2 separate regions of the Homo sapiens genome follow, and region 2 is linked to region 1. Evidence: fine-mapped expression QTL. A gene starts in region 1. The other region holds a variant in brackets. All regions are shown on one strand. Distances are between the middles of the regions. Region 1 holds the start of HTD2 (hydroxyacyl-thioester dehydratase type 2). Region 2 overlaps LOC107986092 (a long non-coding RNA gene).

Region 1 (5,000 bases):
TGAAGGTCTTCTCTGACACCCTTCTCTAAGTTAAGCCCCCATGTTATGCAATCTCTTAACACTGTCTATTTGTTTAATATATGGATCCCCCACTACAGGGAACAGGAAACTGAGGCCCAATCAAGGAAAGGGACTTATCCAAGGTCACAGAGCTATGGACCAGCATTTCAAAACCACTCTGGGTTAGACCCAGTTCCAACCACTCCCAGATGATGACCTCTGGAGAAAAGAAGTCAGGGTCAAGGAGCTACATCTACCAATCCATTCAACAAACATTAATACTTTGGGGCCTGGCGTGGTGCTCATGCCTGTAATCTCAACAGTTTGGGAGGCCAGGAGTTTGAGACCAGCCTGGGAAACATAGTGAGACCCTGTCACTAAAAAAAAAAACAAAAAAACTTAAATTAACCAGGCATGGTAGTGTGTGCCTGTAGTCCCAGCTACTCCAGGGGCTGAGGTGGGAGGATAGCTTGAGTCTGGGAGGTTAAGGATACAGTGCACTGTGATTGTACCACTGCACTCCAGCCTGGGTGACAGAGCATGACCCTGTCTCCAAAACAAACAAACAAAAAATACTGTAATACTATGACACAAAGTAGGTATTCAAATGAGAGAAAAGTGATAGTGGTATAGGCCTATATATTCAAAAGAATCCTTGGTTTCAGGACAGCGGAAATAGTTACCTGATGCTTCTTTCCCAGTCACTAGAGTCTCCCCTAACTAGAAGGGCAGGGAGAACAAGAAACCTCATCTGTTTCTTTCATTGCTTGGCACATAAATGTTTTTTAGTGTTACTGCCTTGATGGAGCTGGCTGCCTAAAATAGGGGAGTGAAATTAGACCCAGGGCTTAGATGCCAGTAAAACGAAGACTTACACAACATTCACGAGATGGACAGTGGTGATGGCTGCACAGCGTTGTGAATGTACTCAATGCTACTTACGATAAATTTTATGTCACGTATTTTTTGCAATTAAAAAAAAAAAAAAAGACTTACAAATGACAGCACTGCCCTCTGCAGGCTGTTCTGACATTAAAGGAGAGGATACCTGGGAAATTATTTTGTACAGACTGGTATTAAATATATTCACCAGGCTCTCCACAGATGTGGGCTCACGAAGTTACTGTCATCGTCATCTTTAAAGTCAGTCTTGTTGTTTGTTTTGAGATGGAGTCTCACTCTGTCGCCCAGGCTGGAGTGCTTTGGGTCGAAGCAATTCTCGCTCCTCAGTCTCCTGAGTAGCTGGGATTACAGGCGTACGTCATCACGCCCAGCTAACTTTTGTATTTTTAGTACAAATGGGGTTTCGCCATGTTGGCCCAGGCTGGTCTCGAACTCCTGGCGTCAAGTGATCCGCCGACCTCGGCCCCCTCAAAGTGCTGGGATTACAGGCATGAGCCACCGCGCCCGGCCTAGAGTCAGCCTTTTTTAGTGGCTGCGCAGGGATGCTCCTAATCTGACCTATTAGTAATAAATCTGATTCTCCCTACTCCCCCGCTTCTCCATCCCTACGGCGGCCAGTGAGTCTATTAACATCTACTCAAGCTACATCATTCCTCTGCTCAAAATCTTGCTATGGTTCCCGTTTTATCCAGAGTAAGGCCAAAGTCCTTAGAGCAGCCTGCAAGGCTCTGCCTCACCTGCAGGACTGCTCCCTCTACACCTCTGACTTCATGTCCTGCCATTCTCCCTCCGCTCAATCCCCGCCACCACACAGGCCTAGCCTAGCTCTTTCTCACGCGCCAGTCTCGCTCCCACCGCTGGGCCTCGGCTCTAGCTTTTCCCCATGCTGGGAAAGATCTTCCTCCAGGCAGCCACCGGACTCACACCCTTGCCCCCTTCCTGGCTTAGCTCAAATCTCAATCGGGTTGGCCCAGTGCCCTTCTCGGCTAACACCGCACCCCACCCCCATGCCCCGTCCCTGCTTTCTTCTTCGTAGCATTTGCCTTTTTCTATGACAATTATGTAACTCGTTTATCTTTATCTGTACTTCCCCTCCCCACCCCAACAAAAGTCCACTCCAAGAATCTTGCTATCTTGTTCACTGCTGTTTCCCAAGGCCCTAAAACACTGGGTCGTGCACAGTGGGCGTGCGACGTACAATTTTTGGACTAAATCAATCACTTTAAAAAGCTCAATATCCTTACTGCTGAGCACTTGGGTGGCTTTCAATATTTTTCAACAACCACTATTTAGCGCTCACCTCGCGCCGGGCGCATGGAGAGCGCTCAGGACACGGTCCCGAAGTCTCGCCCGGGCCTCTCGGCCACGTTCTGCGGCCGAGACCCTACGCGGCGCCGTACAGAGGCCCTCAGCGCCCGGGGTCGGAGAGGACAAGCTACCCAAGGCGCACCGCCCGCCCCGCGCATGCGCCCGGGTCGCGGCCAACTGAGACGGCTCCCAGACAACCGCCGCTCTTTGGAAGGCTTCCACCTACCCACTCTTCGTCGGACTAGCCTGACGCCTGACCAGACTCCTATTCGCCGCAAGGACCCGCCAAGGCTTGGGGCTCCCCGGCAGCAGCCACAGCTGGGCCCGAGAAACTCCTGGTGTCTTTACGTTTGGCTTCTCCTCGTCCCGCCCCACGAAGCGTGACGCCCAGGCGGATATGACGTCACCACGCGGCGTCGTCCTAAGGACCCAGGCGCGAATCCTGATCCGGAGCTGAGAGCGGCCGAGCTCAGCGCCCTCTGGTGTCCACTCCGGGAAAGCCGTGTGTGCAATTTGCTTGGGGTGCGGTTTAGGGCGGGTTTTTTCCGCCTTGGACGGTGCTTCATAGTTATCCATTTCTTCATGCATTCATTCATTCATTCAACAATTTTTTCGTTGTTTTTTTGAGACAGTTTCACTCTGTCGCCCAGGCTGGAGTGCACTGGCGCGATCTGGCTTACTGCTACCTCCGCCTCCAGGGCTCAAGCGATTCTCCCACCTCAGCCTCCTGAGTAGCTAGGACTACAGGTATGCTCCACCATGCCTGGCTAATTTTTGTATTTTTAGTAGAGACGGGGTTTCACCATGTTGGCCAGGCTGGTCTCGAACTCCTCGCCTCAAGTGATCTGCCCACCTTGGCCTCCCAAAGTGCTGGGATTACAGACGTGAGCAACTGCGCCCGAGTCATTCTACACATTTTTTTCATTATATTATAATTTATTTATTGAGATGGAGTCTCGCTCTGTCGCCCAGGCTGGAGTGCAGTGGCGCCATCTTGGCTCACTGCACCCTCCGCCTCCCTTCAAGTGATTCTTCTGCCTCAGCCTCCCAAGTAGCTGGGACTACAGGCATGCACCACCATGCCCAGCTAATTTTTGTATTTTTAGTCGAGACGAGGTTTCACCATGTTGGCCAGCATGGTCTCAATCTCTTGACCTCGTGATCTGTCCACCTCGGCCTCCCAAAGTGTTGGGATTACAGGCGTGAGCCACCGCGCCTGGCCTAATTTTTGTATTTTTAGTAGAGACAGGGTTTCACTATGTTAGCCAAGCAGGTCTCAAACTCCTGACTTCAGGCAATCCACCCACCTCGCCTCCCAAAGTGTTGGGATTACAGACGTGAGCCACCGCGCCCAGCCTACAAAATTATATCTAGCATCTCCTCTCCTCAAGATCTCCTATGTCAAGCACTCCCCAAAGATAGGACCCACTCTCAGTGTCCCTTGTGACTCCCAGCACATAGTAGGTGTTCTATCTAGGCCGTCCTGGAAAGACCCACAAAGTAAAGACTTACTTTGTGCTAGGCACTATGCAAAATATTTTACATATGTCATCTCATGGAACCCTCACACAATCCTGAGATGGCTATTACTATGATCATCACCATTTTAGAGGTAGAAACTGAGGCACAGGCCAGGCGCAGTGGCTCATGCCTGTAATTCCAGCACTTTGGGAGGCTGAGGCGGGCAGATCACTTGAGGCCAGGAATTCGAGACCAGCCTGGCCAGCATGGTGAGACCCCCATCTCTACTGAAAATACAAAAATTAGCTGGGCACGGTGGTGCACACCTGTAATCCCAGTTACTCGGGAGGCTGAAGCAGGAGAATTGCTTGAACCTGGGAGGTAGAGGTTGCAGTAAGCCGAGATCACACCACTGCACTCTAGCCTGGCAACAGGAAAAGAAACTGAGGCACAGAGAGGCTAAGTTATTTGCTCAAGATCACAGTTATAAGCAGTGGCATGGGCTGTCTGATTCTAGCCAGTGCTCTCCATACTGCACTGTATTACCACCAATTGAGGGGCTGCAGTGGGAAGGGAAACTTTAGTGTAACCCCCATGAGGATGGGGCCTTGTCTGTGTTTCTCACCACTGCATCCCAGTTCCTGGTACCCAATGGTGACCCAACATCTATTTACTGAAGGCATTTGTTCATAAATGGATGTGCTGGTTTTGCTTGGGTTGGGGGGCAAAGGGTTGCCTTGCACAGGACAGTTGAGTCAGCGGGGATCTCCTTCCTCAATTATTTTCTCAAAATCCCACTGTGTTGTTTCCAGAAGCTTCAGTCCTCAACCTTGGCCATGCTCTCCAGTTCTGTGGTTCCTACTTTCTTCTTCCTTCAGAGGAGACAGGGCTTGTTCCAGATGTGGGAAGAGGTGGAGAAAGCAAACACAGACCCCACAGACCCAAGTATTATCTTTCTCAAAAAAGCTTGATTTCAGAAGCTGCCAGAACTTGCTTCAAATGCATCCTCTGCCACTTACCTACCTCCCTCATCTGTCACATGGAGAGATTATTAGCATCTACCTCACAGAGTTGAGGGAAAAAGAGTTGATGGTATAAAGTGTCTGGCACCCCAGGAAACCCTCAGTAATGGGAGAGGGTTCCTGTAAGCCAGCTGCCTGGCAAATGTATCCTGCCAGGTGGCCCAGGAAAACCAGAGCAATTCCTGTATTTTGAACTTCAAGGAACAATAGATAATTTTCACCCTGCTGCAACAAACCCTGAAAATGAAGTGTCTTCCCAGTTGCCTGAATTCTCTCATGCTGTCTTATTAATTCAGAGCGGAGGAT
Region 2 (5,523 bases), 140 kb before region 1:
CCCGAGCTCTGAGAGCCCACGGTATTTATTGGTAATCCAACAAAGAAACAGGTGTTGAGACTGTGGAGGTCAACACCTCCACATGTTCCATTAAGCACATGATTTACAGCTGTGATGGTTTAGCATTTATATGGAACATGTCCTGCTACTTGAGATAATGGGAACAGGAGCCTAGGAGGGCTAGAAGCAAGCAGCCAGCAAGTCTAGACACATTCCAAAGGACACTATGCAAGCCCTGCCTCAGTTTCCCTCCCTACACTCAGCTTTTTCCCAACAGTGGCGGGAGGGGAGAATGAAGTTATTGTTTATTGGTAGACTTTTAGCTGGGGAAGATAAAACAGTTCTGGAGATGGATGGTGGTGTGGCTAAACAGTGTGAATGTGCTTAGTGCCACAGAACTGCACAACTAAAAACGGTAAATTTTATGTTATGCACATTTTATCACAATTTTAAAACACAATCTAATTAGAATATGGTCAAAAGATGTAAACACACACTTTCACCACAGAGGATGACCTGTCACCAAAGATGGATGGCAAGTCAGCACATGGAAAGATGATCGGGCTGGGCACAGTGGTAATGGCTCATGTCTATAATCCCAGCACTTTGGGAGGCCAAGGTGCAAGGATCATTTGAGGACAGGAGTTCGAGACCAGTCCAAGCAACATGACAAGACCCCTGTCTCTACAAAAATAAAATAAAATTCACCAGGTGTGCTGGCGCACACCTGTGGTCTCAGCTATTTGGGAAGCTGAGGTGGGAGGATCGCTTAAGCCCAGACAGCAAGGCTGCAAGGATCTGTGATTGTGCCACTGCACTCCAGCCTGGGTGACATAGTAAAACCCTCTCTCCAATAATAATACTAATAATATTACCAAGTGCTGGAAAGGATCCAGATGTCTCATGCACTGGGGACATAACATAAATGACACAGCCACTCTGGAAAAAGAGTTTGGCATATTCTGAAAATTTAAACATACACATACCATTACAATCATACAATTACCATACAATCATACAATCTACGATTTCCTGCAGAAATGAAAGCTGATGCTCACCCCTAAACCTATAAGTCAATGTTCTGTGGTAAGCAGGTCTACGTAAACCCCCAAAGACAAAGGGAGGTGAGAGGCTGAAGACAAAGGGTGAAAAATCCAGTTTCTCAGAAGGAAACATTTAGTAGGGACTTACAAACAGAAGTGGCATCTCTGGCAGCCAAGTGATGGTGGATGCCCACAACCAACCTTCTTTCTGGAAAATATTCTTTAATTAGCAAGCTGTTTTTGGTAAAACATGTGCAGCTGGTCATGTCTCAGACCCTCTTATGAAACAACTAGGGACCACTGGGGAAGTTAGATAAGTATCTTTATGAGGGGTTATCTATGTACAGGCATTGTTTCTCTATGAGGAGTTGGATGCTACGGGCATTGTTTCTTGACCTTGTTGTGGGAATGGGAACGAGTTGGTATGCAGACATCAGTCATCACAGCAGTTTCGCTTCAAAATGGTGTAATCTTGCCATGCAGCAGGCTGTTTTCCTACAACCAATGTTGATAACAGCGTTATTGGTAATAGCTAAAACTGGATATAGCCCAAATGTCCTTCAATGGGTGAGAGGGTAAATTAATGCAGCCATACAACAATTTAGCAATAAAACAAAAACAAAAACAAAATTTGGCCAGGCACAGTAGCTCACGCCCGTAATTCCAGCACTTTGGAAGGCTGAGGCAGGTGGATCACTTGAGGTCAGGAGTTCGAGACCAGCCTGGCCAACATGGTGAAACCCCGTCTCTACTAAAAATACAGAAATTAGGTGAGCGTGGTGGCACGTGGCTATAGTCCCAGCTACTTGGGAGGCCGAGGCGGGAGAATCGCTTGAACTTGGGAGGTGGAGATTGCAGTGAGCCAAGATGATGCCATTGCACTCCAGCCTGGGCAACAGAGCGAAACTCTGTCTCATTAAAAAAAAAAAAAAGGAAAAAATTGATACATAATTTGAATGGATCTTGAGGGCATGTCAGTTGATGACAAGAACCAATCTCAAAGAGCTACGTATCGTATGATTCTTGAAATCATACATATTGAACATTCTTGAAATAACAAATTATAGTACTTGAGAATAGATCAGTGGTAGCCAGGAGTTAGGAGTTGGGGTAGATGTGACTGTGAGGTAACAAGGAAGTTTCTTTATGGCGAGGGAACAATTCTGTATTCTGATTGTGGTGGTAGCTACATGAAAATGTACATGTGATAAAACTCTACAGTACTACACACACACACACACACACACACACACACATACACACACACACAAATACATATACAAACTGATGAAATCTGAATAAAGTCTCTCCTGGAGTTAACAGTATAGTTGTACCAAAGTCAGTTACTGGGTTTTGATAACTGTGGCTATATATTATAACTGGGAAAAGGTATACAGAAAATCTTATTATTATTTTTATTTTTAATAGAGATGAGGTCTCACTATGTTGCCCAGGCTGCTCTCAAACTCCTGGCCTCA[G/A]GCCATCCTCCTGCCTTGGCCTTCCAAAGTGCTGAGATTACAGGCGTGAGCCACTGCACCCGGCCCAAAAACCTTGAATGAAGGACTTTCTGACAACTGACAAAGAACCCAAAATGTTCTTAAGGGCAAATATTCCGTGTAACCCTGAAAAGATTTAGTTCCGAGAGAAGACTAGTTGGCCAATTTACACCTTGAAATCTCTTTTAGGAAAATCTAGTGAGCATAGAGATGCAGTCATTTTTAAAAGATTATGGATTTAAAATTCACCACTTTGACCTTTTGTGTTTTTTACTCTGTAAACTAAAAATAAAATTATAAGACCCTCAATCAACTGAATGGACCCTCACCCCCTTGGCCAAGGGGATTCCCCAAGACAACCTGAAAAACAAGTTCAGGCCACTAGATGGGAAGGCAGGTAGGATACCCTCAGTATACTTTCCTCGCTTTGGAGTTTAGGTGCCACTGACCAGCATTAACATTAAAATACATTTCTTAAGACTGACAAAACAGACTCTTTATAGCAGTAAGATACCAAATTCCAACCTGACTCTGGTATACCATCACATGACAGATAACAGGGTCTAAAGGAAATGCAAGTATTTTACCCTAAAATATGTTTATTTGGCATATTTTGGAATGGCCCTGCAAAGCCTTGCCTTGGGGAAATTTGCATTCTGTAGAGAATCCCCTTCCTTTTCCAGGTCTTTCCCTGATCCAGGAGAAATTTAACTAAGAGTCTGACACCTTTGAAGGTCTGATAAGAGACATTTACCATCTATTTACTCTGAAGCCTGCCACTCAGAGGCTTCATCTACTTAGCAAAAACCTTGGCTTCCACAACCACTCTTATCTTAACTCAAGCATTTCTTTATGCTGACTTCAACTCTTCAGGCAAAGCTTAACTTTTTCAACCAACTGCCAATCAGAAAATCTTTGCATCCATGTATAACCTGGAAGCATCCCACCCCCGACTTGGAGATGCCCCACCTTTCCTGGCTCAACCAATGTATACCTTACATGTGTTGATTTATGTCTTTGCCTGTATGTCTTTGCCTGTCTCCGTAAAACGTATAAAACCAAATGGTAACCCAACTACTTTGAACCCATGTTCTCAGGACCTCCTGAGGCTGTGTCCTGGGCCAAGGTCACTAAATTATAAGGCTCAGAATAAACTTCTTTAAATATTTTACAGTTTGACTTTTTTCGTTAACAGCTTTCAAACAGAAAATTCCACCCAGCCTTTCCAAACTGGCCAGTTTGAGTTTGAAAGAAAGGCACATGTACTAATGAATATACTTCTTGTCAGGCCTCTGAGCCCAAGCTAAGCCATCATATCCCCTGTGACCTGCACGTATACATCCAGATGGCCTGAAGTAACTGAAGAATCACAAAAGAAGTGATATTTAAATGGCCTGTTCCTGCTTTAACTGATGCCATTCCACCACAAAATAAGTGAAAATGGTCGGTCCTTGCCTTAAGTGATGACATTACCTTGTGAAATTCCTTCTCCTGGCTCATCCTGGCTCAAAAACCTCTCCCGCTGAGCAACTTGTGACCCCCACTCCTGCCTGCCAGAGAACAACCCCCCTTTGACTATAACTTTCCTTTACCTACCCAAATCTTATAAAACGGCCCCACCCCATCTCCCTTCGTTGACTGTCTTTTCGGACTCAGCCCGCCTGCACCCAGGTGATTAAAAGCTTTATTGCTCACACAAAGCCTGTTTGGTGGTCTCTTCACACAGACGCGCATGAAACTTCTAATGTGTCTAAAATGTCCACAGTCATTATTTCAAAAGAACATTCTCAGCTGGGGCCTGTGACTCACATTGCCTTCCAGATTAGCTACACAGACTCAGCGTTCCTGGCTTTTCTGGATCTCTGTATTAAATATATCTCAAGAATACTGTCCTTTGTTTAGACCACGGTCCAGATCCTGGCTTCTCTTTGGGCTATCATTCCTTCATCTTGATGTCTCTCTCAGAGGTATGTGAACCAGAGCAACTCCATCTTGAATAGGAGCTGGGTAAAATGAGGCTGAGACCTACTGGTTAGAGACAAGACTAGCTGGATTTCCTAGGCCGACTAAAAATCCCTAAGCCTAGCTGGGAAGGTGACCACATCCACTTTTAAACACGGGGCTTGCAACTTAGCTCGCACCTGACAAATCAGGTAGAAAAGAAAGCTCACTAAAATGCTGATTAGGCAAAAACAGGAGGTAAAGAAATAGCCAATCATCTATCACCTGAGAGCACAGGGGGAGGGACAACAATCGGGATATAAACCCAGGTATTCAAGCTGGCAACGGCAACCCCCTTCGGGTCCCCTCCCATTTTATGGGAACTCTGTTTGCACTCTATTAAATCTTGCAACTGCACACTCTTCTGGTCCATGTTTGTTATGGCTCGAACTGAGCTTTTGCTTACCGTCCACCACTGCTGTTTGCCACCGTTGCAGACCCGCTGCTGACTTCCACCCCTCTGGATCCGGCAGGGTGTCCGCTGTGCTCCTGATCCAGCGAGGCACCCATTGCCGCTCCCGATCGGGCTAAAGGCTTGCCATTGTTCCTGCACGGCTAAGTGCCCGGGTTCATCTTAATCGAGCTGAACACTAGTTGCTGGGTTCCACGGTTCTCTTCCGTGACCCACGGCTTCTAATAGAGCTATAACACTCACCACATGGTCCAAGATTCCATTCCTTGGATCCGTGAGGCCAAGAACCCCAGGTCAGAGAACAAGAGGCTTGCCGCCATCTTGGAAGCAGCGTGCCACCATCTTGGGAGCTCTAAGAACAAGCCCCCCCACCACCCCCTTAACACTGGATTCCCAGACATTTAGGGCATTCTCAGTCACAGGATGAGATAGGAGGTCAGCACAAGATACAGGTCATAAAGACCTTGCTGATAAAACAGGTTGCAGGAAAGAAGCTAGCCAAAACCCACCAAAACCAAGATGGCGATAAGAATGACCTCTGATCATCCTCACTGCTACACTCCCACCAGCG

The links. PIP is the estimated chance that this variant, and not a neighbour inherited with it, causes the effect. A credible set is the group of variants that fine-mapping cannot tell apart.
Region 2: its variant is the best candidate, but not a certain one, in a credible set for the expression of HTD2 in blood mononuclear cells (TOPMed, PIP 0.59).

The regions. Positions count from the first base shown.
Region 1 is chr3:58,303,855-58,308,854 of GRCh38, reverse strand. It overlaps HTD2 (hydroxyacyl-thioester dehydratase type 2), which reads right to left and starts at 2,335. Exons shown (of 5, transcript NM_001348712.2): 1 at 2,204-2,335. RPP14 (ribonuclease P/MRP subunit p14) reads right to left here and starts at 2,610. Exons shown (of 6, transcript NM_007042.6): 1 at 2,438-2,610. RefSeq lists enhancers at 2,045-2,174, 2,295-2,554, 2,745-2,824.
Region 2 is chr3:58,439,669-58,445,191 of GRCh38, reverse strand. The region is part of intron 1 of LOC107986092 (a long non-coding RNA gene); the gene reads right to left. Among named protein-coding and RNA genes, the nearest start is that of PDHB, 8.6 kb to the right of the region's middle. The variant G/A (reference allele first, on the strand shown) is at 2,522.